Regions from separate parts of the Homo sapiens genome. Here region 1 is linked to region 2. The links come from fine-mapping of genetic effects on gene expression. A gene starts in region 2. The other region holds a variant in brackets. All regions are shown on one strand. Distances are from middle to middle.

Evidence for each region.
Region 1: its variant is fine-mapped to the expression of GLRX5 in esophagus muscle (GTEx, PIP 0.91).

What each region holds. Positions count from the first base shown.
Region 1 is chr14:95,459,761-95,467,760 of GRCh38, reverse strand. It overlaps SYNE3 (spectrin repeat containing nuclear envelope family member 3), which reads left to right. Exons shown (of 18, transcript NM_152592.6): 4 at 1,521-1,830. Among named protein-coding and RNA genes, the nearest start is that of SYNE3-AS1, 52 kb to the left of the region's middle. The variant G/CG (reference allele first, on the strand shown) is at 4,552.
Region 2 is chr14:95,528,257-95,540,936 of GRCh38, reverse strand. It overlaps GLRX5 (glutaredoxin 5), which reads right to left and starts at 5,887. Exons shown (of 2, transcript NM_016417.3): 1 at 5,553-5,887. The coding sequence starts at 5,847. SNHG10 (small nucleolar RNA host gene 10) reads left to right here and starts at 6,065. Exons shown (of 1, transcript NR_003138.3): 1 at 6,065-8,025. It also overlaps SCARNA13. RefSeq lists silencers at 5,455-5,514, 5,725-6,014 and enhancers at 6,155-6,614, 5,878-6,667, 6,668-7,457.

The DNA.
Region 1 (8,000 bases), 71 kb after region 2:
TTTACCCTCCTTGCCCACTGTGACACTAGCTTGGGCCCTCTGCCCAAGAGACATTTCTCCAGTCCTGGGATTCTGGGGGACAGGATATTCTCTTGGGATTAGGGCCAGCCCTGCCTGCCTCTTTCTAATTATAATCAGGTTGAATGATGATAATAGACACTGGGAACCCAGCGTGTTTTGTCAACAATTCCTAAGAGACTTACCGTGTGTGCATCCTCCAGAGCATGGCACAATGGCTCTGGAGAAAGAAGGCCTGGGGCCCTGCTAGCACTGTAGCCAGAGTCCCTGCTTGTACCAGGAAGCTGGGTGGTGGTTGGCCGGGACAGGGGGTGGTGGGGAGCAAACACTCGGACAGACCTGGCATTGACTCTTGTCCTGCTGGTTACTTCCTATGTGGTTTGGGAAAGTTACCTGACCTCGCTGAACCTCAAGCACCTCTCTGGACAATGGGAGTAATCAAGTGCTCCTTGAAGGTTGTTAGGAAGTTAGGAGGGGATAGCAAATATCAAGAGCGAGGCACACTGCTTGGTACAAAGTAGGCCCTCAGTAAACAAGAGCTGCCAGGATCATCTCCATTTTTATAAAGCAAGGATGTGCATGGAGATGGGAATGACTTTGCACAGTGCTTCCTGCTTTCTAAATCCTTGCGCTGGAAATTCCTAACACAGTGACTTGATGTTGGCTGGGGAGATAGAGCCACCTCCATGTTAGAGATGGAGAAACTAAGGCATGTGAAGAGGCAGGGTTGCAGAGTGAGTTCACAGCACCCCTGGAACGCACACGCAGGCTCCCAGCCTTCCGTCCCCATTGGGTGCAACGAGCCCACAGATGCAGATGTCACAGATGTCAGTGGGGCAGCATTCCACATGGCAGGAGCTCCTCCTTCACCCCAGCCATGGGGAAGGGTCAGAGACAAGCAGGCTGCTGGGAAGCCAGTCTAAGGACACTGACCACCAGCCCCCAGGGAGACAGGCTGGGGATCTGAGCTTGAGCTTTAGGCCATGCCTGCTGTTAGTAAAGACAGATCCAAAGTGCTCTGCAGGTGACTGGACACATCCCAACCGCAGTCTGCTCCTAAAATTAGTGGGTGTGCGTGTGCCAGCGGCCTGGAGAAACTGTGTTTAGAGCCCCAGTGCCAAAGAGAAATGACTGGGGGTGTCTGTGCATTGACAGTGGGAGTTCAGGGCCAGGATTTAAGGTGCTGGAGGTAAACGGCTCCCCAAGATGCATCCCCAAAACTGGTGGTTCTGGGAGGAAGTTTGGAGTCTGAGCTCCCCTGGCTCCTACCCTCACGCAGGGAGCTTATTTACTGGGCAGAGGGTCTTATCCAGTAGGACTGAGGGAGGGTCTAGAATCTGGAGTGTCAACAAGCTGCCCAGGTGACTCAGAGGCCAGAAAGGGCATCATCATGCCCCCAGACCACAGCCCCCTAGTATTGGGGAGGGGGTGACAGCACAGACCCCCGACCCAGGAGGCAGGTGGCTGGTTCCCTCACAACCTTGAGGTCTCTGTGCCCACAGCCGCATCGAGTGGGTGTGGCTGCACTGGAGCGAGTACCTGCTGGCCCGAGATGAGTTCTACCGCTGGTTCCAGAAGATGATGGTCACACTGGAGCCCCACATCGAGCTCCAGCTGGGCCTGAAGGAGAAGCAGTGGCAGCTGAGCCACGCCCAGGTGCTGCTGCACAACGTGGACAACCAGGCGGTGCTCCTGGACCGGCTGCTGGAGGAGGCAGCCTCCCTGTTCAACAGGATCGGGGACCCCAGCGTGGACGAAGATGCCCAGAAGAGAATGAAGGCTGAGTACGATGCAGTGAAGGCCAAGGCCCAGGTGAGGGTGAGGCTGAGTGGGCTACATCCTCACCCACCCATCCATGTATCCACCCTTATCTACCCATTCCAGCCACTGTTTGCCTACTATCAAGCTATTTACCTACTATCAATCTATCTTTCTACTATCAATCCATCTACTCACCTGTTCACTATCCAACCACCCTCCCATCCATCTGTCTACCTACTCACCCATCTACCTCCCCACTAAATCACCAAATCTCCCCTTCACTATCCACCCACACACCACCCCATTCACCTATCTACCCCACCATTTGTTCATCCATGTATTCTCCCACCCATCTGTTGACTCACTCATCCATCTACTTCCCCACCAGCCTGATCAATCTGCTATTCATCTCTTCAACCACTTAATCGCCCACGCATTCATCTATCTACTCATTCACCTACCCATCAACCCAGCCACCTCTTCCTCACTCACCCATTCACTCATCCATCTCTCCACTGCCTACCCCTTCACCACCTATCTACCCACTATTGACCATCACCCACTCGTTTATCCAGCCATCCACCCACCTAGCTACCCATCCCCCAATCCTCACCTACCAACTCTTCCACCACCCACTCACCATTATCTACCGTCCAGATACCCAGTGTTTCGCAGTGCTTAATATACATATAGGTGTGTTGACCGACTGACTGATGGACTGTGATGTTCACTTTGATCCAAACAGCTTCCCCCTTCTCCTCCTTTCTCTCTCTTCCTCTCTCCCTCCTCCCCTCCCTTCCTCCTCCTGCCCTTTAATCCTTCTCCTTCAGTGTTTCCTCCTTGCTCTCTCTTGCCCTTGCCCCAGTCCCTCTGTCCATTCTCTGTCTGCATTTCCTCACCCCATTCTTGCCTTATTTGGAAACAGTTCATTGAGTTATCAAGTTCAATTACATTTGTTAGAAATTTTATTTGGTTCTGTATTATGTCTCCCTGTTCTTTTTAACAAATTATGTCATTTTCCCCCTGAGATTTTGCATTCCTCCCAGATATAGCTTATATTTGCAATCATTCTAAACATATGTATTTTACAGTCCCCATCAGATTTTTCTAGTGGCTGAGGTTCCAGGTCTAAGGCTGAAGTTCCACGTCAGGCACCTATGTGTCCCCTGACATGGTAGATTGTTTCCTTGGGGGGTGTTGTCCTTTTGAGCTCTAAGCTCAGCCTAAGCAGGATGCATCTGCAGAAGCCTGCAGCTGGGACACCACCTGAGAGTGGCTTTCTGTTGGCTTCAGCTGGGCTCCTCCTGAGGTTTATCTTCACGACTCCTATTTTCATGTCAGTGAATTGGCTTGGGGGTTCCCAGATCAGGCGGATATTCTAAACGTGAACCCCAAGCCAGAATCATACAATAGGCCCCAACTCCATATTCTGAAGGGTGATTGGTTTTTTTTGTTTGTTTGTTTTTAGGCCCAGGCTAAAACATGCACATTTCCTTCTCAGATTGCGTTTGTAACAATATTTTTTTTCTACTTCACCCTTTGGCTAGTGGGGGCGGGCAGCCACTTGAGGCTCTGTCTTTTTGCAGTGGTCTCTGTTGCCTCTGAGCCCAAAGTCTCACTTCTTACTCCAGCCTGAGCATTAAACCCAAGCTTCTAGTAACTAAGACTTCAGGCACCTGTGTGAGCTTAACAGGGTGGTTTCCCGGGCATCTTTACTTCTGGCCCATGGGAATATCCCTTCCCTTGGTGTGACGTGGGTCTGCATTGAAACGGTGTTTGTTATGTTACATTTTATCTGGCATTTCTGGCTCTCTAGTTGGCTATAGCGCTGAAACTGAACATCTCCTGGGTTCTTCATGCTGACAGTTTAAGGGAAATAAGCTCTGTGATAAGCAGAACTAGAAAATCCACCAGGAACAAGGCTCTGGCGCTTGGGAAGGGACTTGGATTCCAGGCCAGGCACTGCTGCTTCCCAGCTGTGTGGCCTCAGGGCAGCTCACCTGACCTGCACCCAGGTTGTGGGGGCTGTATGGTTACATGTGAGCTCTTTGAAAACTGGCAAGCATTTTGCCAATATAAAGAACGACTTCTACTCTCAGTAGCAGTGAGAATAAATAGGAACAACAATGGCTGTTTGCCATGCAGCAGGTGCTCAGAACTATCTGTTGAAATAATGAGAACTCCACCCCTGCAGTTTGAAGGCAAGCAACCCGCAGGGCCCCAGAGAGGAGCCACAGGAGGCTCCAGGAGACTGCGCAAGGCCCAGAATGGATGGGCAAGGCGGGGATTCGACTTGGCTCTTGCAGAGGCAGCCAATTGGCCCTCATCCAGCCCTGCCAAGGCCCGTGTGGCATGGGCAGGCTTCATGGCAATTCTCTCTCCAGGTCTGCCCCTCTGGCCCAGCTGGGACAGGTGCCTGGCTCCACAGCCTCTTTGCTGTGGCTTTACAGGAAACAGGTGCTTGTGCCAATCAGCAGAGAGCGCCTGGTGCAGGGTGTGGAGGAGATGAGATAAAAAGTTGTTGGTGTGTGTGCAGGTTTGCATGTATGTGCATGGGTGTGTGTGCATGTTTGTACGTGAGGGTGGATGCTGGGGTGCTGAGTGAGCATCAATTCTGGCCCAGATGCTGAAAGGATTGCCTCCAAGAGCCTCATTTTCATTCCAGGGAGTTCTCCCCTCACACAATCCAAAACGCTATAGACATCACAGCTCTTATCAGTGAGAGCTGTTTTTTCTAACCTTTTCCTGTCTCTGACCTCATCTGCTCCCCCA[G/CG]TCTTTTTATGAAGTAGATGGAGAAGTTGTTATTGGACTCTTTTTTTTATTTTGAGACTGAGTTTCACTCTTGTTGCCCAGGCTGGAGTACAATGGCATGATCTCAGCTCACTGCAACCTCTGCCTCCCGGGTTCAAGTGATTCTCCTGCCTCAGCCTCCCGAGTAGCTGGCATTACAGGCATGTGTCACCATGCCCGGCTAATTTTGTATTTTTTAGTAGAGATGGGGTCTCTCCATGTTGGTCAGGCTGGTCTCAAACTCCCGACCTCAGGTGATCCGCCTTGGCCTCCCGAAGTGCTGGGATTACAGAAGTGAGCCACTGTACCTGGCCTTTTGGACTAATTTTTTAGATTAAAAAACATTCTGTGCGTCAGACACCAGCGGCCCAGTAGAAAAAGCCAGAGGTGCTGATGACTTCTAAGGTGGCGCTCCCTGCAGCTGCGACTCAGGTCCTGCGTTAGTGTCTGCACCTGTGACCATCAGGATGAGCTGGGGCCCCGGGTGCTTCTGTGGTCAGGCTGGGACAGTGAAAGGCAGGTTTGAGCTGCTGAAGAGGGAGCCCTTGCATCCAGGGCTCTCAAGAGGCAAAGGCCCGCCTGGCAGTGTCCTGGGGCAGGAGCATGGAAGGCTGTGTCATGTGCGGAGACAGCGGTGATGGGGGAGGTTTGGGGTGCGGTGAGGGGGAGACTCCCTCCATGGTGGAAGCCCTTGGAGTTGCCAGATGGCTGGTCAATGCTGATGCCAATGTGGAAATGGGGCGCTGTTGTTTGTGGGGTGGCTGGACCCTGCATGGAGAAGTGAATTCAGTTTTGGCTTTCTCAGCTGTTGGCTGAAGGCCATGGCCCCTCATGAAGTCTTCCTGCAAGCTTGAGGACTTTGTTCTCACTCACAGGGAGCCCGGTCAGCTCTTAGACAGGAGGGCTGTGGTGTACCCTGGAGGTGTTTCCTGTCTCTCTAGAAGCTGGCCATGGGGAGAACTGAGGGGTAGGTGGGGAGGGGCCACGCGGACCCCTGCAGCCTCTTTGATCTTGTATTCAGAAGGTATGAGTGTGCATTTCTATGGGGCGAGGAGCTATAGCATCCACCAGATTCTATGGATGGAGCTTTCGTGGATCCAGAGGGTGCCATGTTCTTCCGAAGCCTGAGAGGCTCCTGAGCGGGGCAAACTTCTCCATCGCCCTTGGCCAGAGATCCAACCACTCAATCCTAAGCTCCTCATCAGCAAGGTGGGATGCAGCCCCCGGCATTGACCTCCTGGGTGTCCCCAGCCCTCCAGCCCCAGACAAAGGGGGAAGATTCTAGCCTCATCCCAAGGTGGGTGGGCACTCCACATACCCAGCAGCCTGCAGAGATCCTTGGTGGTCCCAGCCTCCCAGTCCCTGCTCTGAAAGCTTGATGAAGACCTCCCCTGCATAAAAGGTCTCTCTTGGGGCAGTCGTCTGACTCCAGCGATGGTTCTGTCCTCGTGCCTTCCTGGGGGTCGAGGCCTGGCCTCGGGGTGGGATTGGTCTCTAGGTTCAGGTTAGTGCCCCTACTTTTACCTATGAGAGCCCATTGCCACTGCTTGCCATGCTAGAACAGGCCACTGCTCCAACGAGGAAAACCCATTTTTGACGTCCATCATGTTAATTAGCACAGCCTCTAGGGTTGATGGGGACGGAACCACAGAAGCACCATGGGGTCCTCCCTGAACTGGAGCCTCTGTGACCACCTGCTAGAGGGAGATTCTTGACTAGGGCCAAGGCTAAGCCCAGAGGGGAGCAATGGCACATTGTCAGCCCGCAGTGTTTGCAAGTGAAATGTAGACAGGGCAGGCTGGCTGCGGGGAGGGGCTTGTTTGTTTGTTTTTAATCCCGATTTAGTCTTCCCAAAGGCAGGCACATGGAAGCATCCTCACCCCCGCTGCTTCCCGTGGCGGCCCTCACAGAAGGCGCGTCTGTCTGGCATCTTGGCCGTGAATCAGAGCTGCTTGTGATGAATCAGAGCTGCTCGTGCAGCCCTTTGCAGAGGCATAAATCCGCACCACCCTTGTTAATTGGTTAGGTTTTGACATTCCTGACAGCTCTGCCCGCCGCAGATGGTGTAATTGCTGGGTCTAACGAGAAGGTTGAGCACCTTCCCGTTTGTCACCCCGTCATTCTCCAGCACGGCTGGATTCTGCCCTGTGACTGTTATGCCTGGCACGGATCTCAGCTGGATCCCTGCCCCTCCTGCCGAGGTCCTCTCTGAGCACCTGCTCCCCATCACACAGACTTTTATTTACCCTGGACTTCTCCGGGTGCCAGCACCTCATCCTTCACACACTAGCAGCCACGGCCGGCACTTCCATGGGAGAGTTCACTCCCGGCTGCATCTATCACCATCAGCGCGGCCAGGGGCCCAGCATCCAGCCTCTGTCTGTTACTCCTGACCCACTTTGTTTCATGAATGAGCCTTTCCTGTTGATGGAGGAGGCTCCAGGAGAGTTTTGACGGATTTAAATAACCCTGCAGGAAGGGGAAGCCAGCAGGGGAGCTTGCCGAAGCCCCGGAGCCATCCTTAGGGCTGCAGGCGGGAAGCATGAAGGGGACTGTCCCCTCGCTTGCTCCACTTTCAGATTCAAGCAGGGCCCATGTTTTGTAAGAATTTTGTCTTTCTTGATTCCAGTTGTAAGCCATTTCAGTTACTATAACTTTAAAATAGGCTTTTGACTGGGCATGGTGGCTCACGCCTGTAATCCCAGCACTTTGAGATGCTGAGGCAGGTGGATCATTTGAGGTCAGGAGTTCGAGACCAACCTAGCCAACATGGTGAAACCCCGTCTCTTCTAAAAATAGCAAAAAAAAAAAAAAAAAAAAAAAACTAGGCATCGTGGTGCACCCCTGTAATGCCAGCTACTTGGGAGGCTGAGGCACGAGAATCGCTTGAACCCAGGAGGCAGAGGTTACAGTGAGCCAAGATCAGGCCATTGTACTCCAGTCTAGGCAACAGAGTGAGACTCTGTTTCAAAAAATAAAAAATAAAACTAGGTTTCTAAATAAGAATGTATGGTGCCTCCAATGTTATTTCTCTTTTTCACAACCCCAGTTGGAGTGCTCAACAATTTTTGTTGTTGTTGTTGCTGTTTTGAGACAGGGTCTTGTTCTGTCAGGTGAGGTAGGCTGGAGTGCAGTGGTGCAGTCACAGCTCACTGCAGCCTCCACCTCCTGGGCTCAAGCGATCCTCCTGCCTCAGCCTCCCAAGTAGCTGGGACTACAAGCGCCCTTCACAAACCCAGCTAATCTTTAAATTTTTTGTAGAGATGCCATCTCACTGTGTTTCTCAGGCTGGTCTCGAACTCCTGGGCTCAAGCAATCCTCCTGCCTCCACCTCCCAAAATGCTAGAATTATAGACACGAGCCACCATGCCCAGCCTTGAGAGAACTTCTCAGATCTCTACTGAAGAGCTTGGTCCTAAGCCTGGGCTTCC
Region 2 (12,680 bases):
TATTCCAAAGTATCAACCCAGAAAGAGTACAGAAATGATACTTTAAAATTCCCTTCCAGAACTTTCAAAAGGTATTTTTCAAAATTCATCACATTCAGAACACTGGGCATTACTCCTGATTTGGACACTAAATTACGAGAGCAGCATAATCATAGTTTTCTTTCTTTTTATTTTTCCTGGTAGAACCTCACTACAGTAGCTTCAGAATCTGATATGAGTTCCAACTCTGTCTCTTACCTACTAGACTCTGTGATCTTGGGCAAGTTACACCACCTCTGAGAGTCACAATTTCTTCATATTCTCTAATTTAGAGAATGGCGTTAAGTCGAGATAAGATGATCTGAGCTGAAAGCACGGAAATCAGTAGACCCTCACTAGAGGAAAAGCAAGGCACGGGGCAGAGTGGGCAAGGCACAGGCTTAAGGATCAGTAGATCTGGTTTGCTAGCCTGTAAATGTAGCCTCAGACAAATCTGTTAATCTTTTAGCCTCAGTTTCCTCATCTGTAAAATGGGAATATACTCTACGCCTCACATATTATGAAGATTCCATGATATCTAAGGAATGAAATGAATTGAGCTCCCAGCATAGTACCAGGTACAGTGTGGACATTCTCTCCATACCAACATGCTCCACCACCCACCCTTCACAGTAATGCTTTTCTGAGAAAGGCAACAGAAAAAGCATAGGAAAATAAAGCAGGAAAAAGTGATTAAGTATACCCTAAAGTAATGAAAACGCCATTCAGGCCAGGTGCGGTGGCTCACACCTGTAATCCCAGCACTTTGGGAGGCCAAGGCTGGTGCATCACCTGAGGTCAGGAGTTCAAGACCAGCCTGGCCAACATGGTGAAACCCTGTCCCTACTAAAAATAAAAAAAATTAGCCAGGCATGGTGCCAGGTGCCTGCAATCCCAGCTCCTTGGGAGGCTGAGGCAGGAGAATCGCTTGAACCCGGGAGGCAGGGGTGGCAGTGAGCCGAGATTGCCCCCTGCACTTCAGCCTAGGCAGCAGAGTAACACTCTCTCAAAAAAAAAAAAATATATATATATATACCATTTATTGAGTTAAGGATTACTGAGTTTCATACTCTTTAAGCGTTTTACAAAAATAATCTTATTTAATCTTTACAAAAATCTGACAAGGCAGGTACAATTATCCCTACTTTACATAAGATGAAGAAACTAAGGCTCAGAAGGGTTAAGTAACTTACCGAAACTCACAGTGACAGCGCAGTGAAACCAGGATTTATATCCAGGCTTCCAGGAGTACAAAAGCCCAGACTCTTAACCACATGCTACCTGAGTCCCTCACCAGAGGTGGCCTCTACCCTCTAGCTGCCATCTCACTCCTGCCCAGGAGCTACAAGTGCACTGCACACATATCTGCAATATATGGGACTGTTTTATGCCTTTAACATTTACATATACAAATGGTATTATGCCATAATTACGTGTTTGCAACTTGCTTTTTGACTAAATATTGTATTTTTGAGATTCAGCCATGTTAAATACATCTAGATCTAGTTCATTTTAACTACAGTTTAGCTTTCCATCATGTGACTAAAGTTTATTTATCTGGTCTGCTGCTAATAGACCAAGATCCCTTCCTGTCAGTTTTTCATTATTGCAAGCCATGCTGCAATGAACGCGCCAACACAGGTATCCTAACACAGAGGTCCCCAACCTTTTTGGCACCAGGGACTGGTTTTGTGGAAGACAATTTTTCCACGGACCAGGGAAGGGTGGGGATAGCTTCGGGATGAAACGGTTCCACCTCACATCATCAGGCATTAGTTACATTCTCGTAAGGAACGCACAACCTAGATTCCTCACATGTGCAGTTCACAATAGAGTTTGTGCTCCTATGAGAACCTAATGTCGTCACTGATGTGGCAGGAGGCGGAGCTCAGGCGGTAAAGCTCACTTACCCACCGCTTACCTCCTGCTGTAAGTCCTCGATCCCTGGCCTGGGGGTTGGGGACCCATGTCCTAACACACACATGCAGAAGTCAGTCTCTAGGCCAGGGACAGATAAACTATGGTCTTCAGGCCAAATCCAGTCTACTTCGTAATTAAAGCTGTATTTTCATAAATAAAGTTTTATTGAAACTCAGCCTGCTCATTCATCTACATATTGCCCATGACTGACTTCAGGCTATATAACAGCAGAGTTGAATAGATGCAACAAAAACCACACAGCCCACAAAGCCTGACGTACTTAGTCTCTGGCCCTTTACTAGGGTAAGTTTGCAGATCCCCCTCTCTAGAATATATACCTAGGAGTCACGCAGCTGGGTCTTAGGCTCTGTTCACCCATAGCTTGACTGGGTACTGATAGTTACTCCTCCAAAGTGTTGGTACCATTTTATACTCCCATCTGCAGCATACATGTGCACCACACAAGCACATACACACAACTTGTTATCCAACTTTTAAGGTTCACCAGCATGACATGTTTCACTACTGTCTTCAATTCCCTGATACTGAAAAGGTGGAGCGTATTTTCAAATGCTTAATAAACATTCAACAACAGGATATGGTTATTTATTCAACAAATCATTTGAGTCCCTATTCTGTCACTGTTCCAGATGCAAGGACTACAATGATGATCTAAATCGGCAGCAAATGTTTATAATGCCTTTAAGGCCGCAGAGTTTGCAATATAATGATAAATAAAAGCAGTATTTATTTATTTATTAAAATGCTCACTGAAAGCTTGCTTTGCATAAGCGGTACACACAGCACCACAGGCAGTGGCATAAGACATATTCCCTCGTCTCTGGAGGGCAAAATACTATGTATAGACAAGCATGGTCTCAATGTGTTAAAAAAAAAAAAACTGTTAGGAACTAGATCTAAATGTTAATACAATAGTTTCCATAAATTACAGGTGATTTTCCTTCTTTAAACTTTTCAGTGTTTTCTACATTGCTTCCATGAGCATAAGTTCCTTTATTAAGACCAGGATTAGGAAATGATGATGTCAGTCTACTGGGACCTGATCCCTTTGTGACTGTCTTCTGTGTGCACTCCAGATAAAAAGAGAAGGACAAGAAGGTCTTGAGAAGGCCAGAACACAATGCTGCCTCATAGTCACCTTTGTTCCTTGGGTCACAGTCTCAAGATGTGTCTGTATCACACTCCTGGGAACCCAGTACTCAAAACTAGGAAAGAATGTTTTCCTCCGGTTTAGGCACTTTGTAAAGTTCAGGTCTCCTTGGCATAAGAACCAACAAAAGGCCAGTTTTGCAAGAGCTCCGTTCCTATTACTAGAAATGACCTTGGATCTGGTGTACAAACATAGTTTCGGCTGGCAAAAGCAAGCATCGGACAGCCCGTTAGTTGCTCTTGGTAAATAAAGCTGTATAGGGAAGAGGGGAAGAGTCTTAATAACCTGGCTGAACTAATCCCCATTTGGGGAACGTGCTTTTACCACCCTGCCCAGTCCAAATGTTAATACTTACTAATCTTTACTTTTCTAATCAATAAAAGAGGTATGTTATATTCAATATATATGCAACGCGTTTATTAACCAAAATAGCAATCTGATGAAACTCAGTGGTCAAGGAATGTAAGGGTTAAATTCCTGTCGCTGCTGTTTGAAAACTTAAGAAAGTAAGCTCAGAAACCAGACACCAGACGTGGATAAAAGACAGAAAAATAAAATGTTATCAGTACATATTCGTATTTTTGCTCCTATTTTCCGTTTACTAGCTATATTCCAGCATATCTCATTTCCAGTTATATTAAACAAGAGAAAATAAATTCACAAACCAAAGACCCTCGAAACATGATACTAAGCGAGATAACAACACCACTTTTTTACTAGTGCCATATTGGCAATTTGCAGGGGACTCCCTGCAAGGTCTCTGTCAAAAGACTGCAAAATAGTTACTCCTCTTTTAAGCAGAGAAGCTGTCTTCGAAGGAAGACTGCAGGTCCCTTGCCTTGCACATGATAAAACTGAGCCCAGTAACTGGTGGCATACTAGTTGACAAGGAAGACAAAAGGGTCATGAGAATAACACATGGTAATATTACATATACGTGGTAATTTGAACCTGCCCTCTCGACTCCTCAACTCAACATGCTTTCTAGGTCCCACCCACCACCACTATCACCTACAGCAAATGGAGGATCAGTTATCCCCAAGAGTCTTTAAGGACTAGATAATCTGGGAAAAAATACATTTGAAAACCATCAAGTGCTAATACGAAGCCAGCTACCATTTACCGGGTGCTTTCTGTGCCAGGTAAAATAATACACACTTTCTATAATTTTTACTTTGGCTTCCTAACACAAACTTTGCCAAATTGTCTCATTATCCTCAAATGCAGGTGAGTGACTTAAGTTTTACACCTGATTAGCCACAGAAGAGGATGTCAACCCAAAGCTTTTCCAAACACCAGCCTGTCTCATCATTGTAAGCAATGACTATGATTAGTAATTTCGAATTTAGAGTAACAGAGAACCTGGCACCTATTTTTAGCACACAACTGGCACCTCTTTTTAGCTAGGGACATGCAGGGACTCAGTCACTGAAAGTCTCTAACTGGGATGCAGGTATCCTAAGTCACTCTCTAGAAGGAAAAGGTACAGCCTTCCCAGTTTTCCACCAACCCTGACCATCCTGGCCAAGGAGCAGGCCCTTGTGCCTGGCCTCTTCCTCCTCCCCTACTCAGATAAGACTGGCGAATGCACGTGGAGTACTTGGAAAAGATGCTTATTAGCTGCAGCCTTCCCTCTCCCGGCCTAATCCATCTGGTCCCTGGTGCCCTGGCCCCCTGGGCTCCAAGGCTGAGCCAGTGAGTTAGCCCAGGGCCCAGGAGCCAGGGCTGCTTCTTTTCCCCACAAACCTCTCCAAGCCCTGGCCCACATAAATTCAGCCCTGTGCTTGAGTATCTAAAGCCAAATGTCATGACTCTTCCCCGACAACATAGATCCCGACTAAGGTCAGCCGACAGCTGTCCCAACCCTTTGCTTGTAGCAACCACAGAGGATGATGCTTGACACCCTGAGCCGTGAGCCAAGCGAGATCAGCCTCCGACCTCACTAGCCTCAAGGGCAACCTCAGCCCTCTCCCCACCATCGACAGCCCTAGACCTTACCCACGAGTAGGCCAATGGCTTCCAACCTCCCCAAAGTGTCCGCGAAAGTACCTATCTCACAGTGGGTCCTTACTATGAGTTTCCTAACCGTGCAGAGCAGTCAGGCAGCGGGCCACCCTCCTCCGAGTCAGTCATTGACAAATCGCCCCGAAACGCCTATATTAGCTCGAAGTGAGGATAAGTGAACCTTTAGGACTTTACCTACTGCTCAAGTTGGCAACAGTACAGAGCCCCAGATCCTCAAGACCCAGTGAAATCAACTACACCCTCAGCCCAGACTCTACTCCAGGGCAGTACTCCTCGCCCTAACCCGGCTCGAACCTTCAGACAGACCCCGGCGGATGGAGCCCCGCTCCCCAGCCCGGCGCGGCGGAACCCCTCGGCCTCGTGCAGCGATGCTCCTGGGCCCGGGGCGGAGGGCGCCTGCCCGGCACACTGGCCTGACCTTGTCGGAGCTCCGGGTCGTCCAGCACGTTGTAGGCCGCGTAATCGCGGACGCCGTGCAGCCGCAGGATCTGCACCACGGCGTTGCTGAAGCCGCACTGGGGCTGCTCCGGCGTCCCCTTGAGGAAGACCACCACCTTGTCCTTCTTCACCAGCGCGTCCAACTGCTCCGCCGAGCCGCCGCCGCCCGCGCCCGAGCCCGCCGCCCGCACGCCCGGACCCCAAAGGCCACCGCCGCCCGCGCCGCGCCCCCAGCGGAGCAGAGCCGCCGCAGCTCGGCCGAGGGACCCGCTCATCTCCGCACGCAAGCCGGAGCCCACGACGGCCCGGGCCCACAGCTGGCCACCCAGAGCGCTCCCCGGCCCGCGGCAGTCCGACCCGCCCCCTGGAGGCCCTCATTGGGCCGGCTCTAAACTGCCCTCCGTGATTGGACAATACTGATCAGTAATTACTCGATTCCACCAATCATGTTGCTCGTCCCGCCCGGCAGGTAGGAGGTGGGCCTTATGCCGGAGCCTCATCCTACTGCCTTACTATTGGTCGTCGGCAACCGCTTTGTTAGTTAATTGGAGAGACTGGATGTCCATCAGGGTCACGCTTGCAGGGCAACGAGAGGCAAAACAAGAGGGAAGACGACTTTCCTCCTGTGAGCCAATGAGGCCAGCTGGACTACGCCGAGACAACTGGGAGAGGCGCGGGACTCGCCCGTTCCGCGGAACGCCGGGAAGGGGTCACCTCCTGATGAAGTTTCCGGTTCCGGTGTCAGCGGCGGTTGAATTGCCATGGCAATGCGGTGGGCGCGCGCTTGTCGTGTTGGTCTCTTGGGAGGTAGCGGGGCTAGGCCGGGCGGGTATCCGCCTCTCCCAGCTTAGGTGAGCGTCCCCGGGCGCCTCCGGAGCGCCGCGGCCGCATGCAGTTCGTCGTGGCGGGGAGCCGGAGCCTGACCGGGGTTCCAGCGCTCGGGCCGTAGCCTTGGCTCCTGGACTTTCCCTGGCTCCGCCGCCACGTGGGAGCTGAGGCTCTGGGGCTTCCGCCTCCGGCGCGCGATTATTTCTCTAGAACAGTTTTCATTTTTAAAATTTGTAAAGCGCTTTTGCCTGTGTGATTTCCTCTGGGTTTTTTTTTTTTTTCTTCCTTTTTGTAGAGACGGAATTGGCGGCGGGGGCGGGGGGTCGATGTCTCACTTTTTTGCCCAGGCTGGTCTCGAACTCCTGGCTTCAAGGGATCCTCCTGCCTCGGCCTCTTAAAGTGCTGGGATTACAGGCGTGAGCCACCGCCCCCGGCCGCCTCTGAGTTTCCAGCCTCGTTGGCCCTCCAGCCTTTTAACCTGTTGGGCCTAGGATCAGGAAAGGTTTGTTGAATGGGGAACTAAGAAGTGAATTCGTTCGTTCGACAAACGTTTCCTGAGCAGCCGCTGGGTGCTAGGCGCAGTGCCAGCGCGGAATGTCCAGGGAGACCTGGTGCCCAAAGCTTGGACCCATCGTGAGAAATGAGAAGCAGATACAAAGCAGTGTGGGAGTGCAGAGGAGACAAAGCAAGCCTCATCAGGCCCATTGCTTGCTCTGCTCTCCCTTGTACTTACCAGTGCTTGACAATATACAGTTATTTACTAGCTTGGTTATTGACTTCCTACCCAGCACTCAGTTTTATTCACTGCTGTATCCTCAGTGCCTAGGACGATGCTTGGAACGTGGTAAGTGCTCCTATTGGCGGGAAGAATAAATCCGGAAGAGCAGGACCAGTGGACTTGCTACATAATCTGTAGTCTTGGAGCCGCACAGGGTTGGTGGTACCCTCGAGCACACCAGACTTGCAGAAAAAGCATACTCCAGAGGAAGCTGAGGCATGCCTGCTCGAGAGCCAGCTGTTCCATGTGCAATTTTCCTCTGATAGTTTCTGGTCACTGTTGCCACGGTGATAATGACTGGGCTATGTCATTATCTATCCGCCAACAGTAAGAGAAGCTTTGCAGTCGAGATATTGTTTAGCAGATGGAGTGTTTTCTGTTGAACACTAAGTACTGCCACAAGTTACTTTTTTTTTTTTAAACTTTGAGTATTTTTTTACAATGTTGCTGGAGGTGATCTGTTTATGCTTTGAGAGTGTTCGAATTTAAAATCAGAAAATCATGTCAGTGAGTGAGTCTTTCAAATAATCCTTCGGCATGAAACCTGAGCCTAGTAAACTATGAAAGTAAACTCGGCACATTACCCGAAAGTCTCAATGTCATATTTTCACCCCCATCAATATTATTGATGATTGCTCATTTTCTAATGTGGGACCTGAAATTTACCAGGTGCTTAAAGAATCTTTTTGTTTTTCAGATTCATTGATTCCAGGTAAATCAGAGGAACAAGCAACATGAACAGAAATATGTAGAAAAAGCTATTATGCAGAAGCATAATTGTTGTTTCAGAAGTCCAGCATCTGGTGCACTTAACAATAGAGAATATATTAAACTCTTTCCAAAATAACCTGTTGTTCCTACCTGTGTTGTAAGTGTTTTGTTTGTTTTTAAGTAAATATTGGTGATTTGTTGCCAAAAACCTAAACTGTTTGTTGCTGTCAACTTAAATAACGAACAGAGAGAGGCTCTCTAAAAGAAAATGGCATTTATTCAGGAATAGAGCACTGCAATGAGAAAATGCATGCGATAGTTAACTGTGTGTATCCTGGGAGATAGAGGAAGACAAAGGTCTTTAAAGGAAAAATGAGGAGGGTTACATAATTGTTTTGAGATAATTATTTTTGACTACAAGGATCAGTAACAAAGGTGACACCAGTCCCAGGTTGGACAGGCAGGTGCTCGGCAGGCATTGCAGAAGTATTTTTTGTGTAAGATTGAGATGGCCTTTGTGCAGGATTGTGGTTTTGGAATCTTCTGTGATCGTTTTTGCTATCAGGCATTTATGCTTGCGAACTCTTTATGGCCTTCCCTGTGTCTATTTTGATTCCACCTTTCTCATTGCCCACTCTAAACTGTAATTCTGCTTTTATGTTGACTGAGATCAGGAGAAGAATTTGCAAACTTATATCCTGAGACAGAACAGTAATGAGGAGTATCGTGTTCCTTACCTAATGTATAATATTGGGCTCAGAAGCAGTTGTCTTTTTTATTTGTTGAACGTTGTATTAAGTTGAGAATGCAGCTGCCATTAAAGATTAAGAGTAATCCTTGAGAAGGAAGAGTACAAAGCCTGTGTTTTGCTAAATCATAGTGAAGTTGCCGTGTTTTTGTAGAATATGATAAGAACATACAGTGTGTGAAATGCTAAGGATATGGAAAAGCATGTTGGTGCTCTTTCAAGGAGCTATTTTGATAGCATGAGCAAGGGCAGGAAACAGATCATGTATCTGAACCAAAGAAATTGAAACAATACATCTAAATTTAAATTTTTAATAAAACAACCCAAAATATAGTGAAATACTTAGCACCAAACATCAGTGATCTTAAGAAGCAAAGAAAACAGTATTCAAAATACTTCGTCCAAAGTATCAGACTTTTGCATAAAGTTTGGCATTTTGGTTTTGAGATTCCTCTTTAGTCCTATGATGAAAACATGACAAAATATACATCTTAAATAAACAGTTGTCATCAGTCTGCATCTATGACCAGATGTTTTGGGTGTTTTGAGTAAATGGCCTGTCTTAGCATGTGATGGCTTCCTGCCTCGTGAACATTAGTGAAGAGGTGAGGGTGGGAAGTACTCAGGAACTTCTGAGAATCCTGGGATTTGAGTCACAGGATTGGTTAAACCCCAAACTAAATAATCATGCCGTGTAAACATGCTGACTCAGGCATCCTAAAAATGTTTTTCTTCCTTGTGTTTATTTATAGATAAGGCTTTACTATATTTGGTAGAACTCCTGTTTTCTATCCACTTCTCCAAAAACAAATTCGCCATTGAATTCATCGTGTAAACCTCCACATATCTGAGATAGCTTCTTCCGTTTATCAGCCCCAAATGAAGAACTAGAGTTCAGATTATTGAACTGAAGGTGATGCTTTATCTGAGCACTCCACATGTCAGTGTTTCTGTACCTTTACTTTTTTAAAAAATTATTTTTTAAAAAGATGAGGTCTCAGTAGGTTGCCCAGACTGGTCTCCAACACCTGGTCTCGAATACTCCTCCCGCCTTGCCCTCCCAAAGTGCTAGGGTTACAGGTGTGAGCCGCCGCACTGGCCCTGTTCATTTTATGCTCAGTGCTGCATTCTTGTTTGTTCTTAGAAAATGAGAGGGTGTGTTTGCATGAGAACGTGTGGTACAGAAGTGTCTATCTGAGCTGGCCAGAACATTCTGCAAATGTCATATTAAGGGCAAAATGGCTGCTTGGATTGTACAAGGGGCCGAACCACCACGCATTCCTAAGCTAAAATAGCAGATTCTATTGACCTGAGCTGGAACCTGAAAGCTTCCTCTGTGATGCACTGAGCTATCATCTAGTAGTTTTAGAGCATCACTGCAACCCTGGAACTACCTGGATTCCCTGATAACACCAAAAATAATGTAATGTATAAGAAACTGAAGCAAAATGCAGCCCTCAGAATTTTTCTAGTCCCTATTGTGGAGATAGAAATGCTTGTTGGATTTCGACTACCTCTATCTGACAAGGCAGCTGGTTTATTAATACTTCTTTGGCCGAGGCTTTGCTCATCCCTGCCGCCCACATCTTGGAGACAGGAAGGCAGGCCAGCCTCCACTGTGTCACACAAGTCCTGCTCCCTTCACCTGCCCTGAGTCACTGGGTCACTGAAGAGAAAGGGCATGCTGTAGATCTGGTTAGTTCAGTCTAGAATAGACCGTGGGAGATAGGTGAGCATTTATGAAAAGCCCAGATGCCATGACAACCCAGTTTTGTCCTGGAATTTGGGTGGAGGTGTAGTCCTGGGTTCTGGTCTTAAACGTCGCTGAGTACTTGAGTTCTTTTTGATTTTCCTCAGATTTTTCCACATCTATTTTCCCCTTTCTGGATTTTGGAAAAATCCAAATTGATGTCTGCCGAAGTTTGTATATAATTGAAGAATTTCTTCATATAAAGGCTGCAGCGTTGTAAGAAATCTGTGTGTACTTTCTCTGCTCATAAATATTTACCCCCAAATGTTATCATCTTGCATAGATTGTACTTTTTTGTTAAATTTTTGTGTGTATACATGAATTCATTCGAAGCATACATTAACCCTAGGATAACAGTTCTCAGACATTTTGGTCTCCAAATTATGTTTTTTTCTAATATAATATGTTGATAGACATTAGCACTTGTGTCTCTAAGTTTTGTTGCCTTCACATGCAATTTCTGTTTTCCTGCTGATTCATAGCATCACCAACAAGTCCTGTAGAAAATCAACTATCCCAGTTATCTTTGCTGGCTCTGCATATATACTAGATACACAGATGATTTTTGGGCTTTGTAAATTAAAATGACAAAAGTTCAATCCAGAGATCTAATAGCTGGACGTGGTGGCTCACATCTGTAATCCCAGCACTTTGGAAGGCCAAGGCGGGCAGATCACCTAAGGTCAGGAGTTCAAGACCAGCCTGGCCAACATGGCGAAACCCCATCTCTACTAAAAATACAAAAAATTAGCCGGACGTGGTAGCGGGCACCTGTAATCCCAGCTGCTTGGAGACTGAGGCAGGAGAATTGCTGTAACCCAGGAGGCGGAGGTTGCAGTGAGCTGAGATCTCGCCACTTCACTGCATACTCCAGCCTGGGCAACAGAGCGAGACTCCAACTCAAAAAAACAGACAAACACACAGAAAACCAAAAATCTAATAAAAAAAAATCTAAGCCTATAGCCTGCTGTTTCTGAAAGCTATGTTCCTCTTGTCCCCACGCTGCTTTCTCGCATTGAGGGCCAAGCTCCTCGGCTGCGTGCCTTGAAAGTCATACACCTGTTGGATTTCATTCTGTTGCAAGCCTTATTTAATAACAAGGACATGGGCCTGAATCATATCTCCCGGAAAGTGGTATTGAGAATTAAGTGGTAATCGTAAAACTTGTTAAGCCTTTTGGTTAAAGGTGATGAAAGAATTGTTTATTTTCCCCAACTGCCTGTTTAATGGCAGTGTTTTGTAGTATTATGTGTTTCTTTTTTTTTTAACCAGCAGATAGTTTCTATAACTCAAATTATTACATTCCAGAGACCTGAAAAGGTCCCTAGATCGCAGAATAGAAAGAGTAAGGAGGCAGTGCTGTTGTGTATCCAACCTGTTAGGAAGATTTATCTGTTAGCAGAAGTTTATGTCTCCCTCTGATAGTCACTGAGTTTGCAGCCAGAAGAACATTTAGGAAATTTAATTGTTTTCTTTTGAATAATTGCTAAGATGTATTGCCAAGGCCATAAATACACTTTATCATGAGTCAGAATTTCACTTTGTACTTCAGTCTTTGAGCTTTAATAATTTCATGCCTTCAAAATGCAGTCTTGCTATTGTGGGAACCCATTGCTCCAGCCTTCTTCAATCGTTCATCTAGGCCTGGCGCAGTGGCTCATGCCTGTAATCCCAGCACTTTGGGAGACCGAGGCGGGTGGATCACCTGAGGTCAGGAGTTCGAGACCAGCCTGGCCAACATGGTGAAACCCCGGCTCTACTAAAAATGCAAAATTAGGCGAGCATGGTGGTGGGTGCCTGTAGTCCTAGCTACTTGGGAGGCTGAGGCAGGAAAATTGCTTGAGCCCAGGAGGTGGAGGTTGCAGTGAGTCAAGATCGCACCACTGCACTCCAGCCTGGGCGACAGAGCAAGACTCTGTCTCAGAAATAAACAAATAAATAGAAAACAGTTCATCTAGCAAAAAAGAAATTCACCCCAGTTTAATTGCAGGGAGGGGAGGGATGATTCAAGTTAGAAATGGGATGAGGCATTAATTATTCATTTTCCTTTGCTGGCAAAAAAAAATGGAGGATTTTAAATTTTTTTGTTCTCCTTTTACAGCCAGAAAAATCCTATTTGCTAATTCTAAACTTAATATTTTTTGAAAGGGTATCCTAGTGAGATATTGTTCATTGATATCAAATTTTAGTGAGCCACAGTTTCAAAGAGTTTTAATAAAAGACTATCAAAAGACTGGGTGTGGTGGCTCATGCCTGTAATCCCAGCACTTTGGGAGGCCGAGGCAGATGGATC